Regions from separate parts of the Homo sapiens genome. Here region 2 is linked to region 1. Evidence: fine-mapped expression QTL. A gene starts in region 1. The other region holds a variant in brackets. All regions are shown on one strand. Distances are between the middles of the regions.

Region 1 (5,377 bases):
TCCACCTCACCAAAGAATCACCTGACGTGGTGACACCTGATCAGGTGTTAGGGCCTGGACCTGCTTCCAGGGAGAATTCACAATGAGCCATCGCTTCCTTTTCTACCTAAGTCCTACTAGCAGGCATCCCTGAGGCCAGAAGATTCCATGAGCAAGCAACAAGAGTCATAGAGGGCACAGCAGGTTGTAGCCAAGACAATATGGGCCCATCTGGAGATTACATCTATCCTGGCTGAGTAGGAGGGTACATTCAGCAACATAACCATACAAACGTGCCCTCTCAGAATATGTCAGCAGGTAAGGGAGTAAGGGGAACCACATATAAAACCACCGTGGAAGCCACACAGGTCCCCTGAGAACTCCTTAAACAACCAATATACCATTTTTTAAGTCTACACAGTTCCACCAGTATGAAAGGCCATGACTCCTCATGCCCAAGATCACTGGCTAGAAGGAGGCCTCATCTTGCAAAGGTTACTTTAGGTCTCACCCCCAGGCCTCCCTAACCACTGCGGGTAAAGAAGAGGGTAAAAACACAGGCTATGATGTTAGACACACCAGTTGTTAGTTTCTGACTTAAGAAACTTAAGAGCTACAGTGATGTAAGGCAGGTAATTGGACGTATGTGACCCTCAAATTGCTCTTGTGTAAAACAATGATGACAACAGAACCTAATTCTAAAGAGTAATCCCAGCACTTTGGGAGACCCAGATGGGTGGATCACCTGAGGTCAGGAGTTCAAGACCAGCGTGGCCAACACGGTAAAACCCCGTCTCTACTAAAAATACAAAAATTAGCCAGGCGTGGTGGCGCACACCTGTAGTCCCAGCTACTCAGGAGGCTGAGGCAGGAGAATCGCTTGAACCCAAAAGGCGGAGGTTGCAGTGAGCCGAGGTCACGCCACTGCACTCCAGCCTGGGCGACAGAACAAGACTCCGTCTCAAAAAAAAAAAAAAAAAAAAAAAAAAATTTCAGGGTTAAACGAACTGAGGGTTAAATAATACTCACCGATCAGCCCACAGCAAGGACTCAATGACAGTTAATATCATTCTTTGCAATTATTTTTCTTTGTTCCCATTACATCCTTGACAAACTCAAATCCACAAGCTTCTTTAATACCATCAGATTATCTACACAAAAATACCAGACTCTGGGCAAGGGTGTAAGGTGCCACTTTAGCCGGAATTGCCAAAAAAGGCACCTCCAAATAGGTGACACCTGGACAGATGCCAAAAGGATGTGAAAGGGAGGCCCTGCAAAGTTACAGGGGCAGTGTTCGAAGTAAAAGGAAGTGCAAGGAGAAAGCCTGGAAAATGGAAGAGGACTGCACGGTCAGGTTGGTGGCTCTGAAGAGCAAAGGACCAGGGAAAAATGCAAACAGACAAGGTCAGGGGTGGTTGGCCAGGTGGATGGGGTACGGGCTGGCAGGCAACAGAGAAGGTTGGATTTAGGGGAAGTGTGATGAGATCCCTAGAAGGAAGCATCACTCCTTCAACCACGGACTGAACACCTATCAGAGGCCAACACTGTTGCAGGACTGCGGATAAAGGAAATGACAAGCCACGGCCATTTCTCTTAAATAAACGATGGCGACAAAGAAAAATCCTGTGGCTGTCTTGGCTTCCAGCCTGCCCACGAGGCCTCTAGAAATAGCACAGCAGCAGCAAGGCCGAAACCTCGTCCACTCACCTGCGCCGGAGCCATCCACGCCGCCGCCATCCCGGGAATGCCGCGGATCAGCCGACCACAGCCCTTCTCTGTCCTGGGCGGGGCGACCTCGGCTGACTTTCGCACTCCGAGCCTCAGTTTTCCCCCGAAAAAAATGCGCACAAGGCCCAAGGCGCAGCGTCGGGGCTGAGGAGACGGAGGGCGGCTGCGGAGGCCTAGGCCTCGGCGGGCGCCGGTGGGACACCTCGTTAGGGGAGAAGCGGGGCGTCAGGCTCCCGCCAAGACGCGAAGAAGGGGCGTAACCGCTTCACTACCCGTCCCTGCTCAGGCCGCAGAACGCGCCCACCCAGCGCTCTAGGCCCCACACTGTTTCAGGGCCAAACCGGCCCACGGAGATGACGTCACACGAAGAAGCGGAAGTCCCGCCTCCGCCGCCCTGGCCCGCAGAAAACTCTCCTGTCCTGGGTCGTCAATGGCCCAGAGTCCGCGGCCGACGCAAGGGGCAGTGCCTTCTGGGTAATGCAGTTTTTCCCTTACATCTACCGGGTGTGGGAACTCACCCAGCGCATCCGACTGCACGTAAGTGCGCACCAGAACCCCCGCGTCGTCTTAGGGCCACCGCCTTAGTATAGGCACAAGTCGGAGGGTCGAAAGGTCCCTTCTAGCTCAGGAAAATCGAGGTCAGGAGGCGGGGATATTCGCCCCGATTCAGACCCCGAACAAAGGTGCTTACCCTGCTGTGGGCTGGGCCCGCGACTTCTCGCTTGCTTTGCCTCTTTTCTGGATCTTTTCATAGAAGAAAAGGATAAATGAGCAGTTAAAATAGCCACCCAAAGGAGGACGCCTGACAGTGTGCCCAGCCTGCTGGGAAAGGACAGACCGCCCTCTATTGGGCCTCCTTTGGCCGGGCCCAGCCTTCGTAGGATGCAGGGACTTCCGGGTGATGTAATAGGCTTCGCGTTCGCCACGTGTGGACTTCCCGTACCCTGAGGTGGGGAGGCTGCTAGTGGAGCAGGCTTGCCGGGAAGCCCAGTACTCCCATTTCAAGCATGATCAGTTTGAAACGTCAGTAAGACCACAAAGCGTAGTGCCATATACTCAACCTATGATTCAACATTGGCAGAGGGTTCGAGCGTGGATATATAAATTTGGGAGTTATTACTGTAAACTGTTACTTCAAGTCATGATATTGGGTGAGGCTATGAAAAGAATGAGCGTAGATGGATAAGTGACGGGAAAGAGGGGAACCCTGGCCCAACCCAGCATTAACTGGTTGCAGACAGGAGAGTTTATAAAGTCTTGTTAGGAATTTTAACAATCCTAGACTATGCAAAGATTATATTATGCGAAGTCTTAGGAGTCCCCATCAGTAACTTTTTTTTTTTCTTTTCATGACTATGAAAGTGAGAGAATAAAGTCCAGCTTTCAATGGTTTGACGATATATATGGTTAAGGAAATAGAAAGGTGTGCAGAAAGTACTCTCCAAGAGATTTAATTTTGAGATTGAAAATAGTCAAGGAATGGAGATGGAGTCAATTTCCTACACGATGCGGTACTTTTGGAGAAATATTTTTGGCTAAATTAGTGTGCAAGGAACACTGTTATTCATCACTGGCAATAGTAATTTTTGAAAATTGATAAAGACATCATTCTCTTTTTCACATATTTGTGACTCTTAAATTTTTTTTTTTTTTTTTTTTTTTTGAGATGGAGTTTCACTCTTGTTGCCCAGGCTGGAGAGCAGTGGCACAGTCTCCACTCACTGCAACCTCCGCCTCCCGGGTTCAAGCGATTCTCCTGCCTCAGCCTCCTGAGTAGCTGGGATTACAGGTGTGCGCCACCACGCCTGGCTAATTTTATATTTTTAGTAGAGACAGGGTTCTTCCATGTTGTTCAGGCTGGTCTCAAACTCCCGACCTCAGGTGATCCACCCACCTCGGCCTCCCAAAGTGCTAGGATTACAGACGTGAGCCACCCCCTCTGGCCAGACTCTTATAATTAAATTTAAATGGTTTTTTCAGAGGCATATGAACCAGAGCAACTCTATCTTAAATAGGAGCTGGGTAAAATGAAGCTAAAACCTACTAGGCTGCATTCCCAGACAGTTAAGGCATTCTGAGTCACAGGATGAGATAGGAGGTCAGCACAAAATACGGATCATAAAGACCTTGCTGATAAAACAGGTTGCAGTAAAGGAGCTGGCCAAAACCACCAAAACCAAAATGGTGACAAGAGTGACCTCTGGTCTTCCTCACTGCTACACTCCCATCAGTGCCACGACAGTTTACAAATGCCATGGCAATGTCAGGGAGTTACCCTATGTGGTCTGAAAAGGGGAGGCATGAACAATCCACCCCTTGTTTAGCAAGTCACTAAGAAATAACCATAAACATGGGCACCCAGCAACCCTTGGGGCTGCTCTGTCTATGGAGTAGCCATTCTTTATTCCTTTACTTTCTTAATAAACTTGCTTTCACTTGCACTGTGGACTCGCCCTGAATTATTTCTTGTGCGAGATCCAAGAACCCTCTCTTGGGATATGGATTGGGACCCCTTTCCTGTAACACATTCCTGGCCACTACAGAAGAGACTATACTGCAGGAACCCGTGACCCAAAGGCTAACTTTGGGTAAGTGGTGGGGTCGGGTAACACTTTTCTCGCAAACCACAAAAGGGACAATGCTGAGGAGACCCCCCTGACTCAAAGGAAATAGACTGCAGCACTGATTGGATGACTTTGGGTAAGTGGTGGGGTACCCAGGTAAAGAATGGGATTGGGATAGACGCTCAAGTTAGGGGAGTTAGAGTCTCTCCTAAGGCAGAGTGGATTAGAGGCCCCTCTTAATAAAAGGCAAGGACGCTTGACTGACCTTGGGTTAGAGGCCCAACTTAGGAGGATTAGAGTCCCTTCTAAGATTTAGGGGGTTAGAGACCCCTCTCAGTAAAGTCCCTCTTGGCTAAGAAGAGGTTTGGCACCGTGGGATGTTAACTGCTATTGTCTTTGGATTAATCTGCCTTGCACTCTTTGCTGATGGCTCCGGGCGACAGGGTTAGGCGTGTACAGGATCGTGGGACATGGGGAGCTTTTTCCTCCCCCAAAAGGGGAAACTTGAGAGCTGACGGGACTGCTGGAAAAAAATCCCTTCACGACAGCAGCCGTAGCCGCCTGAACTTTTCAGTGTCACTGCAATGGGTGGGTCTTTCTCTGGCCTCCCTGATCATTTTGCCTTCCCTGGGAAAGTATTGCTTGTGGAAAATATTTCCTGGGAAAGTATTGCCTGCGAAAGCATTTCCATATATAATTTTTTTTTTTTTTTTGAGACGGAGTCTCGCTCTGTCGCCCAGGCTGGAGTGCAGTGGCGCTATCTCTGCTCACTGCAAGCTCCACCTCCCGGGTTCAGGCCATTCTCCTGCCTCAGCCTCCCGAGTAGCTGGGACTACAGGCGCTTGCAACCATGCCCGGCTAATTTTTTGTATTTTTAGTAGAGACGGGGTTTCACCATCTTAGCCAGGATGGTCTCGATCTCCTGACCTTGTGATCTGCCCGCCTCGGCCTCCTGAAGTGCTGGGATTACAGGCGTGAGCCACTGCGCCCGGCCCCTTTCTTATCTTTTCTATTACTCTATTACTCAGGGCGACCATCTTGCCCAGAGACCACATGTTGAAACTCCAAGTCAGAGGTTGGATTAAAGATGACAGGGCCTATCT
Region 2 (5,377 bases), 25 kb before region 1:
TATACATTTCAAACTAAAAGAAAATTAAGATTATTAAAACCTATATATTTTTAAAAGAAAGCACAAAAAACAGCCTAGAAGAAAACCACAAAATAAGATGCATTTAAAACCAAATATATTAGCTATCACATGAATTGAATACAGAATGCGTGAATAGTAATTTCTAATGGATTAAAATAATCCAGTAGTAGTTCATAAATTACACATCTAAGATATAATGTCATAGAAATATATGAAATAGAAGAATGAAATATGTATACTTATAATTACTAAACACAAACACACAAAAATGTGTATTTGCATCTGACAAGTAGGAATAAGGAAGAAAACACCAGTAAAATATACTTTACAGTTTATACACTTTTAAAAATTTTAATATTACTTTTTATAAAGATGAGAGTTTCACTATGTTGCCCAGGCTGATCTCAAATTCCTGGCCTCTGGCAATCCTCCTGCATAGGACTTCCAAAATGCTGGGATTATAGGAGTGAGCCACTGCACCCGGCCTGTATACAATTTTTACCATCAATTCAAATTACATTAAAAAAATTTAGTATAATGAGAGTAAAGAATTAAATATACAGACAAACCAGGATATTTTAATATTAGCTATCTCAGTAATGATTTCAAGAAGGCAGGTATAACATTGGTGAGGTTCTATTAGATTCATACACCATAATGGACAAATCTGGACTGACAGATACATACAGAACAGCAGATATCAGTTGCCGAATGTTTTCTTTTAGCACAAACTGAGTATTTAAAAAACTGACAATATGTAGTATCAGAAAAAATCTTTAACTTTCATAGAATAAAAGAGAGAATACAATCAGTGTAGAGATCAACAAAAGATACCTCAAACTCCTGGCCTCAAGTGATCCTCTTGCCTCAGCCTCCCAAAATGTTGAGATTACAGGCTTGAGCCATCATGCCCAGCCTAGATACCTGATTTCTTTTTAATTATGCTTGAAATTCAAATTACAAAATACTAAGTAACCCATGCATAGAGGAAACAAAAATTGAAGATTATTTTATTTGTAAAATAATGACAATACCAATTTCATAGGACTTTTTATTAGTAGTATCATAGGCAGTCTTCTGACAAATTAGGAAAAGTAGATAGGGTCTGTCCTTAGAGTAGTGGCTTGGGCTGATTACCTAACTTCTCTGCACCTCAGCACTGTCATCATTACATTGAAGGGGTCCCTACGGTGCCTTAAAGTGCTCAAGCTCTATTATTCACCACACTATTTTGTCATTTTTAAATTATCATAGGATATTCAACCTGAAGTTTTACTTTACCTGCCCACGTCATCTCTACATATTCTCATGAGATGCAGTTCATGAATTCTAAAGCAGTATCATTTAATGTATTATTTTAAAAAGATATTTAGAAAGGTATATTCATTTCAAACATCTTTAAGAATAACAGTATATCCACTTAATACCAAAAAGCATCTCTACAGCATTATTTCATTTATATCAATTTTTAAATCAGCCAAAAATGCAAAGCTACTATTAGTAATATACATTTAAGGTGTCGAACTATGAAGAAAGTAAAATGAGTAAGGCAAAATTCTGGATGGCGGCATCCTCTGAAGGTGGAGGATGGAATTGGCAATCTGGCAGGCTCATGCCGGGCATGCTGATTTTGTTCTATTATATAATCAAGGGGCAGGGTTGAGTGTATTAGTTTATTATATTTATCATGTTTTCCCATTTTTTATTCATGTATAAGTAAAGATTAAGTGGACAAATCTTAATAGCCTGAAGACTGTCTACATGTGTTTCCCATGTAATTCCTAGTAATGCAAAGAGAGAGAACATTCCCAATAGCTTCTCAGGCACAAATTTGCCCTCTCAGTTAATACTGCATAAATGTGACCATTATCTTGTCTTTTATCATCATGTATGATGTTTGGTTATGAACTTAACAACATAATTCTACAGTATTTCCTACTGTGTATCTGGTATGCCACTGCCACTCAAGGTTTCTTTGAGAGGGAGACTATATATTTGTTACTATTATTAATGAATCTATTTCCATGACTGCTGTGAAAAACCCAGGCTGAGTTAACAGTGATGAGCTCTGGCCAGGCACAGTGGCTCACGCCTGTAATCCAACACTTTGGAAGGCTGAGGCAGGAGGATCACTTGAGCCCAGGAGTTCAAGACCAGGCTGGGGAACATAGGGAGACCTCATCTCTAGAAACTCACAGGTGGCATGCGCCTGTGGTCTCAGCTACTAGGGAGGTTGAGGCAGGAGGACTGCTTAGGCCAGGAGGATAAGGCTACAGTGAGCTATGACTGCACAACTGCACTCCAGCCTGGGGGATAGAGCAAGACCCCATCTCAAAAAAAAAAAAAAGAAAAAGCCTCAAGCATGTCAGTTCAAAAAAAATTTTTTTTTAAGTGATGAGTTCTGGAGGTAAATACACCCACTCTGGATTTTCTGGTTACAATCACTACCTTTTCTCTCAACCTCAGCTAGAAATCCAGACTCATGAGGCCTCAATCCCTGACCTTTCATTCCTTGCAAATGCCAAAGCCAACTATGTAGGAAACTTTTTCAGAGAAGAAAACTCTGTCCTCCCAGAAGATAAATTTTCCACTTTGCTCTA[C/T]GAGGCAGAGAGCAACCTCAAACCACAAACAGGTTGGGACTTGAACAGGCCTGAACTCAAGTATTCTTTCCTGGGAAATTCATCCATCTTGTTGGATAAAAGCAGCAGTTTTAATCAGTGTGTTTTCATCCATTTACTTACTGTTTCACAGTTTACTTAAACATCTTACAAATGACTGTCAATTGAACTATTTACAGTTGTTATTATAAAAGTTTTTTTTTTTTTTTCTTGAGACATAGCCTTCACTCTGTCGCCCAGGCTGGAGTGCAGTGGGGTGATCTCGGCTCACTGCAAGCTCTGCCTCCCGGGTTCATGCCATTCTCCTGTCTCAGCCTCCCGAGTAGCTGGGACTACAGGCGCCTGCCACCACGTCTGGCTAATTTTTTGTATTTTTTTAGTAGCGACAGGGTTTCACCGTGTTAGCCAGATGGTCTTGATCTCCTAGCCTTGTGATCCACCCGCCTCGGCCTCCCAAAGTGCTGGGATTACCGCGCCCGGCCGAAAGTGTTTTAAATCTTTGTATACATGTATTTTGGTGTAAGAAAGCACTCAATCCTAATGAGTATGCCCCAACATGACTTGTTTGGTTATAAAATATAAGTATGTTTAAATTTAATGTGAAACCCTTAAGTAACAACATATATAAACATTAACTCAAACAGATGTCAAAGCTTTGCAACACTGAGTTACACAAAGCCTAATTAGGTAGACAAGGATGGGAGGCTGAGGTGGGAGGATCACTTGAGTTCAGGAGATCAAGACCAGCCTGGGCAACGTAGTGAGACCCCCATATCTATAAAACAACAACAACAAAAATAGGATAACAAAGAACACAAACAACCGAAATATTTTGGATTACATCAAAATTTAAAACTATTCTTCAGGATACACTGCTAAGATAACAAAAAGAAACCAAATACAGATAAATGGTTTGCAAAACATGTATCTGACAAATAACTAGCATTCAGAATATTAAAAGATACAATGAATTCTTAAAATTCAATGTTAAGAAGAAAAAACAATTTAAAGTGGGACAAAAGATTTGGACAGATAGGGTCTGGTGCAGTGGCTCACGCCTGTAATCCCAGCACTTTGGGAGGCTGAGGTGGGCGGATCACCTGAGGTCAGGAGTTCAAGACCAGCCTGGCCAACATGGTGAAACCCCATCTCTACAAAAAATAAAAAAATTAGCTGGGCGTTGTGGTGGGGGCCTGTAATCCCAGCTACTTGGGAGGCTGAGGCAGGAGAACTGCTTGAACCTGGGAGACGGAGGTTGTGGTGAGCTGAGATCTCACCATTGCACTCCAGCCTGGGCAACAAGAACGAAACTCCGTCTCAAGAAAAAAAAAAAAAAGATTTGGAAAGATAACTAAAGATATATGAACAATGAACATATGAAAAAATGCTCAATACCAGTAGTCATTTCAGCAATGAAATTTAAATCCACAATGAGACACCTCTACACATCTGTTAAATTGAAAAACTTAAAGTGTAACAAAACCAAGTGCTCAAAAAGATGTAGGACTGGAGCTCCCACAAAATACTGGTGAGAAATCAAAATGGTACAGCCATTTTGGAAAACAACTTGGCAGTTTCCTATACAGGTAAATATACACATATCATATGACACAGCAATTCTACTCCTAGTTATTTACAGAATACAAACGAAAATGTTTCCAACCAAATATCTGTAGCAAGAGAGTGACTTCAGCAAGAAGGCAGATTAGCAGTCCGTAAATGCTGTTCTCCCCACCCCCACAGAGCCAAAATAAATAAGCAAATACATTTTAATGCAAATAACTAAAGGAAAGCACCAGAATATGTCAAAGTAATAACAAAAACTCTGGTGAGCACAGAAACTCAGGATAGCCAAGCAGAGAATGGAACACCTGGTCTCCACAACCCCATCCCCCAGCCAAGATCAGCTGAAAACCAGAAGGAATTTCTCCGTATGTGGAAAAAGTGAGCAATAGCATACCAGCAGCGTACATCACCACCTTGGACACCTACAGTACTCACCACTGGGGTCCCCTACAGCCCTCACAGGCACTAAGCTTAGCTGACGGACCCGCCTGGAGTCCATACAGCTGTGCTCCTGAGGAAGGAGCTGACACTGTCCTGCCCCCAGTGGCCCATACAGCTACTGTGCTGTTATTTTGGAACGGCTGGAGTTCTGTCTGGTTCCATGGCACCTCTTCATCCCTGAGGATAAGCCATCACCATCCACCCCCACCTGGTGGCCCAACATCTACAAGCAGCTTTTCCACCTTCCCATGTAGGGCCATGCAGTGGGAGAGCTGCACCACCTACCCCTCAAGTCCCTATGCTAGGCTGTGTCCTGTCACCTTCGACTAGAGCTGAAGCTGTGCACTCCCTCCTGGGAAAACAATGCTCTGGCAGATGTGCAACATCCACCTCTCACTGTCTACCTCTCAGTCTACTTCTCCCAAAACTGCCCTGCTTCCAGGGACCTGAGCTGAAGCTGCACATTGCCTCCTGAGGAAAGGATGCCTTGGCGAAGCTCCTCCACCTACCCCTCCCAGATGCTGCTACATCCTGCCCCTCTAGGCCAGAGCTGAAGCAATGCCAGGCATCCTGGGAAAACAGTGCATTAACCATCCAGAGCAGTCACACCCCTCTGTACCTGAGCTGAAGCAGTACCTTGTCTCCTGGGAAAACAGTACTTTGGCCATCGAGAGCAGTCATGCCTCCCCAGTGCCTAAGTTTAAGCAGCACCCTACCTACCACCCTGCCTT

What was found. PIP is the estimated chance that this variant, and not a neighbour inherited with it, causes the effect.
Region 2: its variant is fine-mapped to the expression of ZNF460 in whole blood (INTERVAL, PIP 0.91).

The regions. Positions count from the first base shown.
Region 1 is chr19:57,277,149-57,282,525 of GRCh38, reverse strand. ZNF460 (zinc finger protein 460) reads right to left here and starts at 2,041. Exons shown (of 3, transcript NM_006635.4): 1 at 1,690-2,041. The coding sequence starts at 1,719. ZNF460-AS1 (ZNF460 antisense RNA 1) reads left to right here and starts at 2,192. Exons shown (of 3, transcript NR_136529.1): 1 at 2,192-2,247. RefSeq lists enhancers at 560-679, 1,608-2,199, 1,583-2,782, 2,200-2,791, 1,906-2,845 and a silencer at 1,136-1,185.
Region 2 is chr19:57,302,515-57,307,891 of GRCh38, reverse strand. No RefSeq gene overlaps it. Among named protein-coding and RNA genes, the nearest start is that of ZNF543, 15 kb to the left of the region's middle. RefSeq lists an enhancer at 4,754-5,253. The variant C/T (reference allele first, on the strand shown) is at 2,622.